3 linked regions of the Homo sapiens genome follow. The protein of the gene in region 3 purifies or fractionates together with the protein of the main gene of each other region. This does not show direct contact. Each region holds a gene or a part of one and is shown on either strand. Other genes may lie near its edges. The genes, in order: RNASEH2A, ARHGEF7 and KLHL1.

Region 1 (2,433 bases), on a different chromosome or scaffold from region 3:
GGTTGGTCTCAACCACCTGCCCTCAAGCGATCCTCCCACTTCGGCTTCCTAAAGTGTTGGGATTACAGGCTTGTGCTAACGCACTCTACCAATTTTTTTCTAGTGTTTTCTGCCACCTCAGTTCCTAGAACAGTATGTGGCATGCAGTAGGTGCTAAATAAGTTAGAGTAAAAGCAGCGTGATAGAGAAAGCCTCTTCAGGAGGTGAGTTTTTTCTTTATTTTATTGTATTTATTTTATGTTTTTATAAAGATGGGGTCTCACTGTGTTGCCAAGCCTGGCCTCAAACTCCCAGGATCAAGCGATCCTCCCGCCTCAGCCTCCCAAAGTGCTGGGATCACAGGCCTGAACAACTTTGCCTGGTCTAGGAGGAGATGTTCGAGTTGAAATCCCTGATTGATCCATCCTGGGGACGTGCTGGAGAAGAGGATTCTGGGTAGCAGGAAGAACGTGCCAGGGCTGTGAGGCTAGAGCATTGGTACAGTTGTTTGTTCAATTAATATGTGTCTGTTGCTGTGGCAGGTATTCGTGGACACCGTAGGGATGCCAGAGACATACCAGGCGCGGCTGCAGCAAAGTTTTCCCGGGATTGAGGTGACGGTCAAGGCCAAAGCAGATGCCCTCTACCCGGTGGTTAGTGCTGCCAGCATCTGTGCCAAGGTCAGTACCCTACTAGCCATGGCTGGCTTCCACCATCCCACTATATAGGGGCCAGGCATGGCCACCAAAGGGAAGGAGGGAGATTCCAGGTGCCTGTTTTGCCCACAGGTGGCCCGGGACCAGGCCGTGAAGAAATGGCAGTTCGTGGAGAAACTGCAGGACTTGGATACTGATTATGGCTCAGGCTACCCCAATGGTGAGCAGACACGTGACCATGGTACTAATGTTGAAATGGCCAGGGCTGAGCACACTTCTGAGGTTTTCTTTTTTTCCTTTCTGTCATTTATCATTTTATTTTGCTTATTTTTTGTTTTTATTTGTTATTTTTGTTTATTTTTTGAGACGGAGTTTCGCTCTTTTTGCCCAGGCTGGAGTGTAATGGTGCGATCTCGGCTCACCGCAACCTCCACCTCCTGGCTTCAAGCGATTCTCCTGCCTCAGCCTCGCGAGTAGCTGGGATTACAGGCATGTGCCACCACACCCAGCTAATTTTGTGTTTTTAGTAGAGACTAGTTTTCTCCATGTTGGTCAGGCTGGTCTTGAACTCCTGACCTCAGGTGATCTGCCTGGCTCAGCCTCCCAAAGTGCTGGGATTACAGGCATGAGCCACCGTGCCCAGCCTATTTTTTGTTTTTATAGAGATGGGGTCTTGTCATGTTGCCCAGGCTGGTCTCAAATTCCTGGAGTCAAGCAGTCCTCCCACCTTGGTCTTTCAAAGTGCTGGGATTACAGCCATGAGCCACCACCCCTGGCCCTTTTTTTCTTCTTTTTTTAAAGAGATGGGGTCTCCCTATGTTGCCCAGCCTGGTCTTGAATTCCTGGGCTTAAGTGATCCTCCTGCCTTGGACTCCCAAATAGCTAGGATTACAGGTGTGAACTACTGTGCCTGGCTGGAGGTTTTCTAAATTGCTCTGGTCACCCTACTCCACAGTGAAAGAGGCCAAGTGTTAGACAGTGGTGCCATTTGTTTATGGCCACACAGCCAGTGAGTGATAGAGCTGAATTCCAGGCCATAGGATTGCTGCTGTCTTCCCCGCTTCCCACTTTGCTGTCTTTCTGGAGCCCCAGTGATGGACTGAGACCCAAGGTGGGCATTTGTCCCTTTGTTAAGGGGAAGGGGACCAGGCGTGGTGGCTCATGCCTGTAATCCCAGCACTTTGGGAAGCTGAGGTAGGAGAACCGCTTGAGTCCTCGAGTTCAAGACCAGCCTGGGCAACATAGCGAGACCCCCATCTCTATAAAAAATTTAAAAAATTAGCCGGTTATAGTGGTGCCCACCTGTAGTCCCAGCTACTCTGGAGGAGGAGGCTAAGGTGGGTGGGTTGCTTGAGCCCAGGAGTTGGAGGCTGCAGTGAGCTATGATTATGCCACTGCACTCCAGCCTTGGTGACAAGATGAGATCTTGTGTCAAAAAAAAAAATAATGTTAGCCAGGCGTGGTGGCTCACACCTGTAATCCCAGGACTTTGGGAGGCTGAGGCAGGTGGATCCTTTGAGGTCAGGAGTTCTAGACCAGCCTGACCAACGTGGTGAAACCCCATCTCTACTAAAAATACAAAATTAGCTGGACGTGGTGGCACACGCCCGTAATCCCAGCAACTCGGGAGGCTGAGGCAGGAGAATTACTTAAACCTGGGAGGTGGAGGTTGCAGTGAGCCGAGATCGCATAATTGCACTCCAGCCTGGGAAATGAGCAAAATTCCATCTCAAAATAATAATAATAATAATAATAATAATATTTAATGACAGGCTGGGCCAGGTGGCTCATGCCCGTA
Region 2 (3,117 bases), about 41 Mb from region 3:
GGGTGGGGCGCCACCTTGCTCTCTGTATATAGAAAAGCTGGAGCTTATTCTGCGAATGGAGACGATCAAACCATGACTGATGAATCCAGACAGGAGGGATTGACTCTGAGGACCTGAGCTACATCAATCCACTCTGTGAACATCTCAGTTACCTCATTCTGCAATAAGTTCAGTGACTGACTAAAAGTCTTGTTTTTCCAGACTTTGAATTGAATATATAAATATTATATATACATGTTTCTTGTAAATATCCCATTTTGAATGCATACCTGTGGTGGTTCTGTCCGGGCTAATCCCCATGCTAGAATGTCCTTTCCAGCTACGTGAATAAGAAGTCCCATGCCCGCATCCACCGGAAGCAGAAGCCTGGTGGATGCCTGGTTCGTTCCGCAGCACCAGGGCCTCCACCGTGCTGTGGCAGCACCCCCCATGTCGGTATTTCTAAATAACCTTATTTATACCTGCAGAGATACACTTCAGTCCCATTCAGAAGTCTTCTCTTAAAGCAGCATTACAGTCCCAGACCTGCGGGTTTCTGAGGGCAACTTGCTGGCTGACAGACTCAGTCTTGACCTCAAGGAAGGCCCATACGGCACTGCCGCATCCACCTAGAGGTGTTTGCTCTTGTCCGCTGTCTGAGTACTGTGATTCTCAGATGAGTTTGCTGCGTTTTGGGAGGACACAGACGGTTCTGTATAGGCTAGTTCAGTAACAACAAAATACACTGTTTTGTCTTCCCTCAAAGAGAGATCTTACTAGAACCTGTAAATAGAATGTATTATTTATTATAAGTCACTGCAGCTGATGAAAACAGATGGAGGCCATGCTGCAGGCTGATACTGATGGGTGGAGTTTTGTCATCAGGCCAGCCTCATCCCGAGGTCTCCTCCACCATTGGCCGTAGCCAGCAGGCTTCAGTGCTCACCGAAAGTAAAATCCCCTCCTTCAGCAAGAATAAAGCAATATACACCTTAGGTTCCACTAAGTAACATAGGCATAAGCAGGGAACGTTTCCCCCACTGTGTTCCAGTGCAGAGGAGACGAAGCCTGTCCTCACCGCGGCTCGCTGGGCCCAGGCTGGCTCTGGAAAGCCTGTGCGGTCCTGGGCAGGAAGCCCGGCCCGTGGAGCAGGTTTTCGTTCTGCTTCAGCAATAAATAAGGGTGACCACAGGGACTTTGCTTTTGGTTTCCTTTCCTGTGAAAAGGTTGGTTTTAAAGTGAGATACACTTTTCCGTAGAACAAGTGTTCTATCTTTAAAAACCCAAATTGCAGCACCGTGGATTACTGGTCTCAGAACAACTCATTGCGCATCAGATTTGACTCTCTGATTTTCTGTCTATTGGCCAAATTGCCCTTTAACTGCACCTGAATCCTTTGTGTACTGATGCCTTTGAGCTGGGCACCTTGGGAGAGTGTTGTGTTGCTGTTTACGGTTCTTCCTTGCCCTTGCTAATTACAGTCTCTGGTGCCCAGCAAGCCCCTTTGGCTTCCTTCCGTGACTGGTCACGTTGTCTGCCTGGGCTCAGCGTGGACCTGCCCCATGCTGCAGAACCTGGCCTCACCTGGACTTTTCACTAGAATTGCCAGCTTCCTCAACTTAGCAGATCATTCACTCATGCGGGCACAAGCAAAGATCAACACTTTCTTTTTTGGTAAGCTTGAGTTTTACAAGTTATTTTTTGGTGATGCGTAAGACATTGCAGTGGGAAACCATTCAACTTGAGTTTATTGGAGTTTGCTGTTGTAGCAGGTTTTAACTCAGGAACAACTCTTGTCTGATCTCTCCGCCCCTCTGCCGGGAGGCGACATTAACTGTCCTCTCGGAGCCGGTAGCGTTGCTGTCCGAGTCCCCAGGACGGATCTCCTGCAGACCTGCCTTAATGCTCAGATCGAAGTATTTCACAAGAATACTTGTGTTTTTAACAGCCCTTCCCCTGGACGGTGCGGCCATGAGGGCCTCATGTTACGGCATTGCCTTTTCTTTCTGTGGATCCAGTATCTTCCTCGGCTTTTTAGGGAGCAGGAAAAATGCGTCTGAGAGCAACTCTTTTTAAAAACCTGCCCTGTTGTATATAACTGTGTCTGTTTCACCGTGTGACCTCCCAAGGGGGTGGGAACTTGATATAAACGTTTAAAGGGGCCACGATTTGCCCGAGGGTTACTCCTTTGCTCTCACCTTGTATGGATGAGGAGATGAAGCCATTTCTTATCCTGTAGATGTGAAGCACTTTCAGTTTTCAGCGATGTTGGAATGTAGCATCAGAAGCTCGTTCCTTCACACTCAGTGGCGTCTGTGCTTGTCCACATGCGCTGGGCGTCTGGGACCTTGAATGCCTGCCCTGGTTGTGTGGACTCCTTAATGCCAATCATTTCTTCACTTCTCTGGGACACCCAGGGCGCCTGTTGACAAGTGTGGAGAAACTCCTAATTTAAATGTCACAGACAATGTCCTAGTGTTGACTACTACAATGTTGATGCTACACTGTTGTAATTATTAAACTGATTATTTTTCTTATGTCACAGAATGTGTCGCTTCGTCTTCTTTGATGTGTTTTCTGTGTGCTTGTTAGCTTTACAGTTTCTTTGGGCTGTTTTAGATTTGAAAATTCTGTCTGTCTTTGATACTGAAGATAACATGTTTCCTTTAAAGTCTAGAGTTTGAGAAAATTTGAAGATTTTTTTTTAAAAGACAAGGAAAGAACACTGGAAGTCTTAGGAACAAAAGCTGAAGTAACAGGTCACGCTGGTAGGCACAGCCCCCAGGTCCTCACCCATGCCTGGAGGAATGACCTGCATTCTGGAAGGCGCTCAGGACACCGTTTTGTGGGATCAAGTAAGCGAAACTTTCTTGAAGATATCTGTGGGGTCCCTTTTAGGAGCTGTCATAAGACAAAAGGAAATTGCTCGTGTGTGTCCCTGTGTGGCGGTGGTGCAAACGAGGGTGTCTTCCGGAAGGGTGGCCGGGAGGACCAAGCGGGGTCTCCTGTCCATGGTCCGTGTACCTGGCTCAGGTGTGTCTACAGCTCCGCTGCATGTCATTTCAGCCAGCCAGAGGTCAGGTAGCCACACGCAGTGCCCAGCCCACTGGCTTATTGTAGGAGCTCAAAAGAAGTCAG
Region 3 (4,451 bases):
AATTTTAGAATAACAAATAAATTTTATATTACAGTTTGTGAATGGTGAATGAAAAATATAGATACAGAGACTTGACTTATGTTATTTTATATTATTTTAAATAAATCAAGTGAGATAATCCATGAAGCACTAATTTCTATATAAATTAATTACATGCACTTCAACTTTCAACATTATTTCTGATGGAAAGTTTCCTCTGTCCTGTTTGTGATGTGTAATTTCATAAACTATTTTCTTCCCTAAGGGAAATGCTTACTTGATTCCATTGTTGGATAAAAATGATCTGTCACCATTGTTGGCTTTAAAGGGTTTTTTGCTTAATAAACAAAAAACAAACAAAAAATCACTGAATACTGAGAGAAAAATCAAGGCACAAGGGATTGCAGTCCAGCTGTTGTGGCATAAATCAATATTTTAAAAGCACTATAGTGATTTTTATTCCCCTAAAAATAGGTCTTTTGTGCACTTAATTTCTTATTTTATTAAAGCGTCCAACTTTGCCTAAGGACTCCAAATTTAGCTTTGGTTTCTGGTTACGTTTACAGCTCAACCTTGGGGGTAACTGAGCAGTAGCCTAACTGCACTTCAGTGGTTGATTCCTATGCTCTGTTGGGGGTTACTGAAACTGTGAATTTCATGAATGGACAACAACCATATTCTTGGTTAAGTTAGGGAACACATTGCATTTCTGGTCCCTTTGCCTTCAACAAAGACTACTGGGTTCTATCTTAATGGCTCATTAAAGGAAAGGTTAAAACATTCCAAGTAGTCATGTACTGAAAGTGATCGCAATCCTCACCATTCTAAGTATAGATATAAGGGGAAAACACATCTTCTCCAAACGCCTATTTGCAAGATAGTAAGTAGCCTTCGGCTATTCTCATTTATTGCCTAAACTCTTCCATGCATAGTATACAATGATTTATGTACTAGAAGGTTATACCTTGAAATTCTCTTTTATCATTTTATTCCATTCTTGATTTACACTGATAACAGCTTTCATTCCGAGGCTACACACCAAATGCACTGATTTCGCAAAACCCGTCCCCCGTGTTCAGATGCCCATCTTCAAATTTCTACCGTACGCCTCTGGCCCCAGGAGTGAAGCAGTGCCTGGGTGCCTTAATAGCAGAATCACAATGTAAGTGTCAGGATGGTGGCATCGTCACATTTTGACGCCAGCATCCGTTTCTTCTGTGTCTCACTACAGAGAAACTAAGGCTAAAGGTTAAAAGACGCGGTTCATTAAATAATTCAAGCCATTAACCTGCAACCTGCAAACTGATGGCAGCCTATTAAGTTTACACTGCCATGATTCATGTGTGGTGTTTACTGATGCAAAAGCATAATGCCTGTTTTCTTTCCTTGTATTGCTACACAGTAATGTAGCGAGGAAGGAGGGTGAAAAAAGGTGACAAGACCCACGCAAGGGGACAATAAGAGCAGCAGTCTCACTTGCATAAAGAAGATTGAAGCCTTCCCTCCCTCCCTCCCTCCCTCCATCTCTCCGTATAGGCCCCAGTGCACATCTGCGTCACTTACAGGGGAGGAGGAGGCGCTGAGGCAGAGAGAAAATTGTACTGTGAGGACCTTGACAGCTTCACAGGCGGGCTTTTTCTTTTGCCTCCCTATATGCGCTAGAATATCTATTTTTCTCTTTTACAAACTGACTATATAAAACCACCTCTTCTGGCATTGCAGAAAGCAATTGACTTTCTCAGAGCCACCCGGCAGGCTATCGGGGCATCCTCGAAAAGGCCAGGGACAGGGGCGCAGGTGCACCAAGAGATCTGGCGAGGGGTACGCTTCCTCGAGACTTGGGGCTCTTTCTCTCTGCGCTCTCCAGACACTGAACTCTGAGCTGCAAGGACAAGAACGCCACCACCTTCCCTACTAAGGCTCTGCCACAAGCGCATCCCAGTGAGGTGTATCCAGCTGCAGCCGCCTCCGGAGCTTCGGAGCGCTCAGACCTCCCTCCCTCGCGCATCTCCAGCCTAAGGGTTGTCCCACCTCGCCATAACACGGGGCTCTCGCGCGGGCATCGAGGATTCTCAGCTTTTGGCGTCCCAGTCCTGCCTCTGCTCCTGCCTGGTGGTGTCCCCACGCCCAGGTCCTGCGGACCCGACCACGGCTGAAACGCGCGGCTTTGCCGTCTGCGCTCCAGCCTTCGCCTGGCAGAGCGCGCAGCCCACCTAGCGTCTTCTGGCTCTAGGGGTGCAGAGGGCGCATCCCGCCTCTTCCTCCGCCCCCGGGCCCCGCTGTCCTCCCCCACCTGCTGACCAGCCTACTCCTGCGTGAGCTGCCAGCCTTTTGCCTTCTGTGCGTAAAGCATGTCAGGCTCTGGGCGAAAAGACTTCGATGTGAAGCACATTCTGCGACTCCGCTGGAAACTCTTCAGCCACCCGTCTCCTTCCACCGGCGGCCCGGCGGGGGGAGGCTGCCTGCAACAGGACGGCAGTGGCAGCTTTGAGCACTGGGGACCCAGCCAGAGTCGCCTGCTCAAAAGCCAAGAGAGAAGCGGTGTGAGCACTTTCTGGAAGAAGCCTTCCTCCTCTTCCTCTTCATCGTCCTCCCCGTCCTCTTCCTCCTCTTCCTTCAATCCGCTGAATGGCACCCTGCTTCCAGTTGCCACGAGGCTGCAGCAAGGGGCTCCTGGGCAGGGCACTCAGCAGCCAGCCAGGACTCTCTTCTACGTGGAGTCACTAGAGGAGGAGGTGGTGCCAGGCATGGACTTTCCTGGACCACACGAAAAAGGGCTGGTTCTGCAAGAGCTCAAAGTGGAGCCAGACAACTCTAGCCAGGCAACAGGTGAAGGATGTGGACACAGGTACAGTAAGTCCCCACGGGGCTTCCAAGCATCTCTCAATTTCCACTCATTTCACCGCGTGTGCTCATGTGGCTACTAAGTCTAAAATGTTTCAGGTTGAAAATGTGGGTTAAGAGATGCCACCCTGGTTTTGATTACTCAAGTTCTAATTTCATTACAAGTTTGCTCATTAATTTCTATTGGTTCAGACACCTCACTTTTCTTTTTGGAAGTTTTCAAAGTTGTAGCCACCAATTGAACTTACATGCATTTTTGTAAGCCTTCAAGTGGAATAGTTCTCATATTCCTGAGATTATGGTGTTCTTCTGTCATCTACCGTCATTAAATTATATCAGTCGTTCCATTATCTGAAGATGAAATTTTGCTTTACACATCATCAGAATGCATCTCATATATTGGCCTAGTAACTGACTTAGCATATTATCTAAGGTCCCTGTGGTTTGAATCTATTCCAGGAGTAATGAGGTGGACAAAATGAGGCCACTGGACAGCAACATTATTTTACCTCTCTTTTTGCTCCTGAAATGCAGTCGTCTTATTCTCTGTCCCAACTTCTCTTCTGGTCCTTTTACTTTGTGTTCACTCTTGCCTTGTTCAGAGTAAGTCTTTGAGTTAAACTGTCGTGGAGTCCCTTTGCATTTAGCTGTTGTGATTTGTTGGCTCAGTATTGAAATTTTGTCTCCTTGGTAAACAGCTCAATATTTATTTCTAGTTTATTTCAAATATTATGCTTCTTTGTGTAGAGTTCTGCTACTTTAAAGACTTACAGAAAATCCTTCATAGACATAAAACTCCCAAGTTTTACATTTTGAGAGAATTGACTCATTACTATTCTAAACCACATCATTACTGGTTTTGGAATATAGTCAGGATATGAAATGATTTGCATTTAGATTCATGTGATATCAGAATACATTATTAAAGAAGAACTACAGGAGAAATATAGGAAAATGATAATGTATATATTAAGAAATTTTAATTACTACACAGTAACAAATTAGTAACAGAAGCATCTTTTTTAGTCTTTTGGTTGATTGAATCAGTTTCTTATAAATTTGATTAAGTACCAAAAAGAATAGATAAAATTATATATGTATAACCTATATGTGTATATATGTGTGTGTATGTATATATGTGCTCCCTAATTATGCTGACATATGTGGTTATAGATTTAAAAATATCCTTAAAAATTTTCAATTATATACATTATATATATTTTTTAATTTTAATTTTCAGAGATTGAACATATTCTAATGTTATATTAAGACATGTACTATAATGTAAGATAATTTTAATGAGGGAGAAGTATAATCTGGAATTATCAATTGTGTCAATGGTTTTTCCATATATAGGAGACCTAAATATAAGTTTATCTATCATTCCATTAAGTGAAATATTTTAGGAAAAAGAATTATAACGTTAGGTACTATGAATACTATGAAGTTATAAAATGTTATTAAAAGTTATTTAATATGCTAGTTACCTATAATTTTATAATTTAAAAAATCAAATGTACTGAAATTTTTATACCCTTTTGTTGAGTAAATATAAACACTTTTTGGGAGGAATTATCCAGAAACATTAAGCAATTCACCTTATATATTCAAAAGGAAACTAGGTTAAG

The links.
Region 1: the proteins of KLHL1 (region 3) and RNASEH2A purify together in Homo sapiens (affinity purification with mass spectrometry; one large-scale study listed by BioGRID and IntAct). This does not show direct contact.
Region 2: the proteins of KLHL1 (region 3) and ARHGEF7 purify together in Homo sapiens (affinity purification with mass spectrometry; one large-scale study listed by BioGRID and IntAct). This does not show direct contact.

What each region holds. Positions count from the first base shown.
Region 1 is NC_000019.10:12,809,550-12,811,982, forward strand, and holds part of RNASEH2A (ribonuclease H2 subunit A), read left to right. Parts: intron 1-521; coding exon 522-659; intron 660-767; coding exon 768-855; intron 856-2,433. UniProt on the Homo sapiens protein: Catalytic subunit of RNase HII, an endonuclease that specifically degrades the RNA of RNA:DNA hybrids. Participates in DNA replication, possibly by mediating the removal of lagging-strand Okazaki fragment RNA primers during DNA replication.
Region 2 is NC_000013.11:111,303,212-111,306,328, forward strand, and holds the end of ARHGEF7 (rho guanine nucleotide exchange factor 7), read left to right. Parts: 3' UTR 1-2,521; downstream 2,522-3,117. UniProt on the Homo sapiens protein: Acts as a RAC1 guanine nucleotide exchange factor (GEF) and can induce membrane ruffling. Functions in cell migration, attachment and cell spreading. Promotes targeting of RAC1 to focal adhesions. May function as a positive regulator of apoptosis.
Region 3 is NC_000013.11:70,105,579-70,110,029, reverse strand, and holds the start of KLHL1 (kelch-like protein 1), read left to right. Parts: upstream 1-1,577; 5' UTR 1,578-2,330; coding exon 2,331-2,827; intron 2,828-4,451.